2 separate regions of the Homo sapiens genome follow, and region 1 is linked to region 2. The links come from fine-mapping of genetic effects on gene expression. A gene starts in region 2. The other region holds a variant in brackets. All regions are shown on one strand. Distances are between the middles of the regions.

Region 1 (4,395 bases), 73 kb after region 2:
CTCGTGATCCACCCACGCTCCGCCAAGATACATTTTAAACTACTCCTACAGAGTAACTGAACTTGCTCAGAAATCTGTAGGGAACTGTTTGTTTGTTTTGTTCATAGGGTACTTTTGTTTGCTTTCTAGAATTAAGACAGAAAAAGCAACTAATTTTCATCCTTTGAAATTCTGCTTAATGGCCTGGCAACATGATCTGCTTGATGGAAAAAAACAAATCCTTGATATACTAGCCTTAAGCCCAACTGAGGTTATCCGCAACCACAACCATCCCAAATTCTGCCTCCCTAACACACATATGTAATTTTCAGAGATAGTTAATATACTTGTCGGTCAGCACAGTGGTAAATAACATGAGTGTTCAAGTCAGACAGACCAGGGTTCAAATTCTGCTTCTGCCCCTTCATTGTGTGACCCTGGGAAAATTGTATAGCATTCTAATGCTCAGTTCTCTCCTCTGCAAATGTTGGTAAAAGTCACTACCTTCTATGATTGACCAAGAGATTAAAATTAGATGATATATATGAGATACTTAGGACAATGTATATACTAAACATGAAATAAACAATCGCTGTTGTTAGTATTATGTATGCTGATTTATTTCATCTTAATAGGCATAGTACTTCTACTACATTGGAACTGTAATTTAGTAATATAACTCTCATTACATTCCCAAATTTAATTTTCACCAATATAAAATATGCCTTTGGGTGCAATACATAGCTTTATTTTTAAAAAGTCACTCATTAAGGTAGGTAATTTATTTAAGATTCAGATTCAATATTTCTAAAATGTTAATTTTTACATAATGTCAGCAGCTAAATAATATATTATAGCTTAATTTATAGCTTTATTTTAGCTACAAATTTAGCTTTCGTTTACATTCAATGACTTCTAGGACTTCTAGGACTCTGAACTTGTCCATTCTTTTTTTTTTCTTTACCCTGAACCAGGAGCTGTGAATGAACTAGTTCATTCTTCTTTCAAGTCAGTTTTTTAATTACCAAATGTACAATACTGGTGTTAAAAACAGCAACATCTTACCAAGCTTACCAAATATAATCAATACCACTAGAGGGGTTTTGGTAGATACTGTTTTCATTTCCAAAGGTGCTTCACTTTTATGGAGGTGAGGTGAGGTGGGGCAAACAATATTACAGCTGAGTTTCATTAAAACAGTGAAACTGCAACTCGAAGCATCAAGAAGAAACAAACTAAATCTACTCCAGTAAATAAGACCATATTTTACACTCAAAGGAAAGAGCTCATTTCATTTACATTCTAAACATGGGCTTTCCTTTGATCTATGGGACAAGACCTTTCCATCTGCACTTTGCTGGCCTGGACCTCAACATTGCTAATCCTACATCAGGTGCATCTGTCACAGTAGCATGCCCTCTTATATATTATATTGAAAACTCTTAGCACCACACTTAGATACTGATACCTTCAGCCGAATAAAATAGTTACGTTTACTGAAAACCTAACTATGTGCCAGACTCTGTTTTTATTACCTTTCATGAATTATTTTACTTACTTGGGGTTTCAAACTCAAAGACCTGTAAGGCATTTGAGTAAATGAATAAAGTGAGTTGGTGTAAAAACTAGAGGTTCCTCTTCAAAGACTTTCCTCCCTGTCTAATTAGGAATAAATAGTAACTTCTCTTAGAAGCAAAATGTATTCAAAGACCCGTACTAACATTCTTAAATATCTGCTAGCCATGATAAAGAAATCAATGTACTTTAAGTTCTTAGCTCCCACAATTTAGCCTAAATATTTGCCCTGGCATGCATATACTGGTCCAAGCAAGCATTAGGTCATAGCCTGTTCCTCTTCCTTATTTGAAGGTGTTTTTACCGTTCTCAGCATTCCACAAGTTACCTCCTCCTTCCTTTGTTCTCCTCTGCCTTTGCCTCTTTTTAAAAAAAGTTCTAAGTTGCTAGCCAACCGGGACAAATACAGAACGTCAGGTCCCGTTCCAGCCAATGGAAACCGGACACAGCAGTAGGGTGGACGCGTCAGGTTATAAATGACCCTGTCTGCTTTGATCGGTGTACTCTTGTGGCAAAACTGCTGGCAAGTATACCCTTTCTGCAGAAAGTATAAAAACGGCCTTGCTGAGTAAATTAAATTTATGTTCAAGTGCTATTTCTTTATGGCACCAGGGAACAAGCATTTCAAACAGCTGGGAATAAGAAAAATCAACTGTTCAGAGATACAACTGAACCTTACTACTAAGCTTCTAAAAGCATTTAACATGATACAAACAATGTAATACTGGAGAGTATATAATAAATTAAATTGAAAAATACAAATTAAAAAAGAAATGTGTTCTGTGAGTTACCAGGGAAGTAAAAATAAAATAAAATAGAAATATTTCTTTTCTTTTCTTTTTTTTCTTTTTTTTTGAGAGGGAATTTCGCACTTGTTGCTCTCGTTGCACTCTTGGAGTGCAATGGCGTGATCTTGGTTCACCGCAACCTCTGCCTCTTGGGTTCAAGCAACTCTCCTG[C/T]CTCAGCCTCCCGAGTAGCTGGATTACAGGCGTGTGCCACCACACCTTGCTAATTTAGTATTTTTAGTAGAGACGGGGTTTCTCCATGTTCGTCGGGCTGGTCTCAAACTTCCGACCTCATGTAATCTGCCCGCCTTGGCCTCCCAAAGTGCTGGGATTACAGGCGTGAGCCACCACACCTGGCCAAAATAGAAATATTTCATTATGAATTTTCATTTTATAACATACTTTTCATAGAAGGCCAAAAATCTGACACTTTTCTTTGACCCAAAAGTCAGTGTGAGGTCTTTCATTTGGCATTTCAATCTGCTTTTAACTGGGAGCAATATTTAATTTTATTTAGTGTTTTTTTTTTAAGTGGCTGTTTATAAAGGTAGGAACTTTCAATAGTGAATAGAATCTTTGTGCGAGAGTTTTAATTTTAACTGTAATTTTTTTTAAAACAGAGACAGGGTTCACTATGTTGCCCAGGTTGATCTCAAACTCCTGGGCTCAAGTAATCCGCCTGCCTCGGCCTCCCAAAGTGCTGAGATTACAAGCGTGAGCCACCCCACCTGGTCTGTTTTGTTTTTAATTGCACCTTCACATCTAAAAATGTGGGTTAAGACATCACTTTCATTTTTGAAAAATGACCTCAATATAGGAAAGTAGACCAAATTATTTTTGCCAAATGGGCTTCCAAAGACATAATTTCACAAGGAAAAAACAAAGAGACTTATACATTTATGTACACATCAGTCATAATGTCAGTTTAAAAGGTCAAGTCTATAGTTATGATTACTAATTTTGACAAATCTACATAAAATTCAATGCTTTACTTGTATTGATCATCTCTTGGAAAGAAAACGTATATTTTTAACTTTGTTAGTAGGGAGCAATTCCTAGTGAATGATACAATGAACAAACAATTTCTGCACCCCTGCAAAACATATACCTACATTTGTTTAGATTTTAATAAGTCTAAAATTAACACTGACCACTGCTACAGCACTGTCTATAGTTATGATTACTAGTTTTGATAAATCTGCCTTAAACTTGCCAAGATATTTGTCAATACCTTGGAAGTCATTTCATGTCATGAAAACCCAGTCTAAAACCTTTTTAATCACGTCAAAATTCTCCTGACGCCATATACCTAGGTGTGTGGTACAAGTTTAGCTTGGGACCAGAATTGTTTCAGGTTTCATTCTGAAATATCTGCATTATACTTAACCAGTTCAACATCACTACTCCAAAAATTTGAAATCCTTAATGTTCCAAAGAGCATTTCTTTTGAGCGTCGAGTCAGCACTCAAAAAGTTTCAGATCTCAGAGCATTCTGGATTTGGGATTTTCAGACCAGGGATACTCAACCTGTATATGTATATCTGTGGCTTCATCATCTATAATAGAAACTGCCAGAAATCATTAAACTTATTCACACAACACGCCCTTAACTAAGCCTTAGTTCAACATGTTGAGCAATAATATTCCTGGCTAGGTTTATATTTTTAAGCATTTGTTTAAACAAATACTTAACATTCAATTGAAATTCTTTCACAAAGTTGCCAGCTGTAAAATATTTTTATTCCCATATAATTTTTTCTAGTACCATGACAGTATCACATAGCAACATTGCCTATTTTATTTGAAAATAAACACAAACTCTTTCTAGTTCAAGTTTTTCATCACAATCTATATGCTTGCCATAATAGTTTTTTTCTTTTTGAGACAGAGTCTCACTCTGCTGCCCAAGCTGGAGTGCAGTGGTGTGATCTTGGCTTACTGCAGCCTCCGCCTCCTGGGTTCAAGCGATTCTCCTGCCTCAGCCTCCGGAATAGTCCAGTAACAGGTGCACACCACCACGCCTGGCTAATTTTTTGTATTTTTAGTAGAGACAGGG
Region 2 (4,395 bases):
ACGCTAGTCAAGGGCCTACCAGAGCCACATACTGAGCTGTGCTTCTGTGCAGAATTTAAATTCATTTACCTAATGCAGACTGGAAGTCAAAGCAGAAACTAGTAAAATTTTATCAACTAAAAAGGATTGGCTTGATCACTGCTAGGTTTTAAGTAATGTGTGTACAAATCTACGCTCCAGGCATTTACAAAATTAGGCATGCAATAATATTAATCTGTTTAACTGGGACAAGAATCTAGATAAATTTTTCTCCTAGAAAAAAGCACTATTTTAAGCATACTAAACTTTTTATAATGACAAAAATCAGTTTGTCTTTAAAAAAGTGCATTAAATTGTACACTGTTTACTAATTTTCAAACCTTAATGAAAATTTAAATACATAATTTTCCACGTTTTTCCTTCAAGTTTAGATGATAATGCTTTTTGTTTTTTTAGGAAAACCTCTATTTTTTACATATGACTGTCCATATAATTGTATGCATGGCCCCCAAAACTGCTTCTTCGTTTTTTTAATCTCCTGGGTAACTGTCAGACTTAACTTTGTCAATATAAATTCTCACAGGGTGGGCAAAAAAGAGTTTCCAGAACGGAGCAGTAGATTGAGATTGATACAGGCATAAATCCATACCTGCGTATTAAAAATCTGAATCTGTAAAATTAATTTTCTGGGTGCTTATTCAACCTCATTTATTATTTGAGTATCTACAATACACAGCAACCGTTCATGAAGAAACTTAGCTAGCTAATCAAATAAGACAATTCAGAAACATCACCCTACAGTATTTTTCAAAACACTGTATCCATATCCATGCACAACCCAATCGTTGGGTTATATACGTGGAATAAAATAGTAAAGGCACAATCCTAGAGGGGAAACTCAATTCTGACATTCATGGTCTCATGGGTAGGGAAAGATCTCATATCTTAAATCAGCAGAAATAAAGGCTTCAGCCTGAAGGGAAAGCTAGATCATTGTTTATTGCACTCCAATTTAACCTCCACCATGGAAGCTGTCACTACCTGACTGGCTTGTTAGCTGTTTATTTCGTCGGGAGAGGATTCCGTCTTGCGAATCCTAACGAGTTCGGGAAAAAACAAAACTTTACTCCTAAACTTCAAAACACACACACACACACACACACACACACGCACACACACTAAATACATATAATTGTAAAAATCACAGCCACGTTCATTTTTTTTAAAGTCCCAATCTAAAACCTTAAAGAAAAAAAAAGACTTGAAGGAACCAAAAACATTCTTTGATTTTGGTTTGACGTTGTTCAGTCCAACCTCCTCCTACCCAGGGGAATACATTTCTCGATATATTTGATAACAAACACAAATCACTGTGCGCAGCCTCAGATGGGGGTGGGGGGGCGGAAGAGCCTTTTGGAGAAAGCCCTCCTCCGTTAGAAACAATAAATAAGGGAGCGAAGCCATGCACGTTCCTTCACACACGCCCCAAACGCACCTCGGCGAGCCACCCGAGGAGGAAAACTAGTGGGGCAGAGCCCTGAACCACCTCTCTTTCTCCATAAGCATCTCAAGACTTGGAAACTAAGAGGACAGACCTTTTCCTCCTCCTTCCCGCCCTCCTTCCCACCTCCGACAGACCCAAGAGCAGGAGCGGGGGCGCCAGCCCCACGCACTGCGCCTGCAGCCGCCGCTGAGACCCGAGCTGCCGGGCGGCGGGGCGGCCCGGGGCAGGCGGACCGGAGCCGCCACCGGGGGTCTCTGCGCCTCGCACCCCCAAGCCCGGCGCTGCCGACGAGCGGCCGCCCGGGTCCCTGCCCTCGCTCCGGCCTCGCTCCCCCGAGAGGAGACAAAAGGAAGGTTCAGCCGGGTCACCGCGCGGCCGCTGACGGGGAAGCAGAGTCGACCCCGGCGCGGCCGCCCCCCACACAAAGGGGCTCCCCGCCTGGGTCGCGGCGTCGGCGCACTCGTCCCCGCCCCGCGCGCGGGCTCTCACCCACCTGCAGGTGTCTGTGCGTCTGTCCATAGGAACGCGGTCGGCGCGGGGGGGCCTGCGAGAGCCGGGCAGCCCGGGCTGGACGGGACGGGCCGAAGGGGCGCGAGGGCGGGAGGAGAGCGGCCAGAGGGCCGGGCACCAAAGGTAAGTGGAGCGGGGAAGGCGCCCGGCGGGCGGCGGACCGAGGAGCGGGGCGGGGGGCGGGGGCGCCAGCCTGGCTCGGCCGACCGCCGCGCGCCGCTCCGTGCGCCCCGAGCTCCGCGCGCCCGGCTCGGAGCGCGGCGGGCGGGCAGGGGGCGGGGCGCGGGCGGGCCGGGGCGGGGCCGGCGAGCGGGGCGGGGGCTCGGACCCCGGGCTCCAGCCGGCACCGGAAACGCGCCGTGGTCGGCGAGACCCACAGGAAGTGTGTAACGACACCTCCTACGGCACGCACCGAGCTCGCAGTCGTTGCTGCCCCGAGGAGGTGTAGATCGAGCCTCCTGCCGCACACACGTTCGCACGCGGCGGCCGGCGCGCTGGACCGAGAGGTTGGAGCAATCCATCCTCCGCGCGCACGAGCTCAGTCCCTACTGCCCCGACAGGTGTGGAACCCGCCGTCCCCGCTATGGTCCGAGGAAGTGTACAGCACTGCTCCCTACTACACGTCCTGGGCCCGCGGTCCCCGATGCCCCCCGGAGCTCTGTGCACCTCCACTGAAACGCAAGGAGCAGACAGAACCTACACCATCCGTGAGGTGTGTGATTTCCCTTATAACGCATTGAGTAGAGTTACCTCTCCGCCCAGGGATGTGCATTAACACTTTCTACCGAGATACTACGTACAGCCCATAGTCACCGCTGCCCCGTGAAGGTGCCCAACAACCACCTGTAACACACACACCCCTATCCCATCGAGGGAGCGGGGATGCTTAATGATACCTAAAATACACTAAAACTAGGTCCTCCAGCAAACCAGAGACACAAGAACACCACCTACACGACTCAGCACAGCAAAGATGAAGCTGGACTTGCTAGGTGCTACCAGGCTTGGTCCACCTTTATTTTACCTAACACTTTCGTAGTACTTGCTGTGTGCCCACAGTTTGCACTGAGTACTTAGCGAATATTAATTTATTTAATCCTAAGAACTCTACATAGTGGGTGCTATTAACATTGCCATTTTATGATAAGGAAACTGAGGCACAGAGAAATTAAGAAATTTTTTCAACATCACATAGATAGTAGCTAGAGGAGCCTGGATTCATTCCGGACAGTCTGGCTTCAGAGTCTGCTCTTAACTCCCTTTCTATTTACAGCACTGACCATCTCCAAAACAGTAATCATGGTAATAAATAACATTTACACCATATCTGTCAGGCCTTACGTAGTGCCCACATCTTGGCCTCACCTCATCTGTGACAGGCATACCCCAGTCACTTGTACCCTTGGAGTAGGTAAGGGAAGAGAAGAATATTTTTGAGGGAGAGAAAGAAGCTAACTTCTTAGCAAAGGAGAAAATATCCAGGGTCGTCCAGAATCCAAGCAGGTAACTTCATTACCACATCAAGCATGTTCTCTTTTAGGTAGCTTCTGCCAACCCCTCTCCATCTCTAGAGCTGATTCCGGTTGATGTTCTTAACACCTTCCTCTATCAACACTCTTCCAGGTCTAGGCTGAAATTTAAAATCTGTGTAAATGTTGACACAATAATGTTTGTACAAACAAAAAAGACCAAAAATGAAAACCCCCTAGTTAATTGCTGCATATTCTAAAGATGGGATCTTGTGGAGAAATTGGAACTCTTATGCAATGCTGATAGGAATGTAGATGGTACCACCACTATGCAAAACAGTGGGGAAGTTCCTCAAAAAACTAAAACTAGAGCTACCATATGATCCAGCAATCCCACTTCTGGGTAAATATCCAAAAGAATTGAAAGCAGGATATCGAAGAGATATTTGCACATTCATGTTCATTGCAGCACTATTCACAATAGCCAAGAGGTTGAAGCAGCCCAAATGTTCATCAACAGATGAAGAGATGAATGAAAATGTGATATATACATATAATGGAATATTATTCAGCCTTAAAAAGGAAGGAAATCTTATCACAGGCTACAACATAGATGAACCTTGAGGATGTTGTGCCAAGTGCAATAAACCAGTCACAAAAGGACAAATACTGTTATGATTTGACCTATATGAACTATGTAGAGGTATGTAAACTGTGGGATTATGTCAAACTTGTGGAAACAAGACGGTAGAATAGTGGTTGCTAGAGGGTAGAGGGAGGGGAAAATGGTGATATAATGTTTACTGGGTACAGAGTTTCAATTTTGCAAGATGAAAAATTTCTAGAGATGTTACACAATAATGTAAATATAACACCACCGAACTGTACACTTAAAAGTAGTTACAAAGGTAAATTTTAAATTGTTTTTGCCAC

The links. PIP is the estimated chance that this variant, and not a neighbour inherited with it, causes the effect. A credible set is the group of variants that fine-mapping cannot tell apart.
Region 1: its variant is the best candidate, but not a certain one, in a credible set for the expression of KIAA1958 in whole blood (TOPMed, PIP 0.73).

Annotation. Positions count from the first base shown.
Region 1 is chr9:112,411,500-112,415,894 of GRCh38, reverse strand. All of the region lies in intron 4 of HSDL2 (hydroxysteroid dehydrogenase like 2), which reads right to left. Among named protein-coding and RNA genes, the nearest start is that of HSDL2, 34 kb to the right of the region's middle. The variant C/T (reference allele first, on the strand shown) is at 2,514.
Region 2 is chr9:112,484,700-112,489,094 of GRCh38, reverse strand. KIAA1958 reads right to left here and starts at 2,268. Exons shown (of 4, transcript NM_133465.4): 1 at 1,977-2,268. HSDL2-AS1 (HSDL2 antisense RNA 1) reads left to right here and starts at 1,451. Exons shown (of 5, transcript NR_171779.1): 1 at 1,451-2,116; 2 at 2,554-2,705. RefSeq lists silencers at 1,670-2,159, 2,240-2,299 and an enhancer at 2,730-2,789.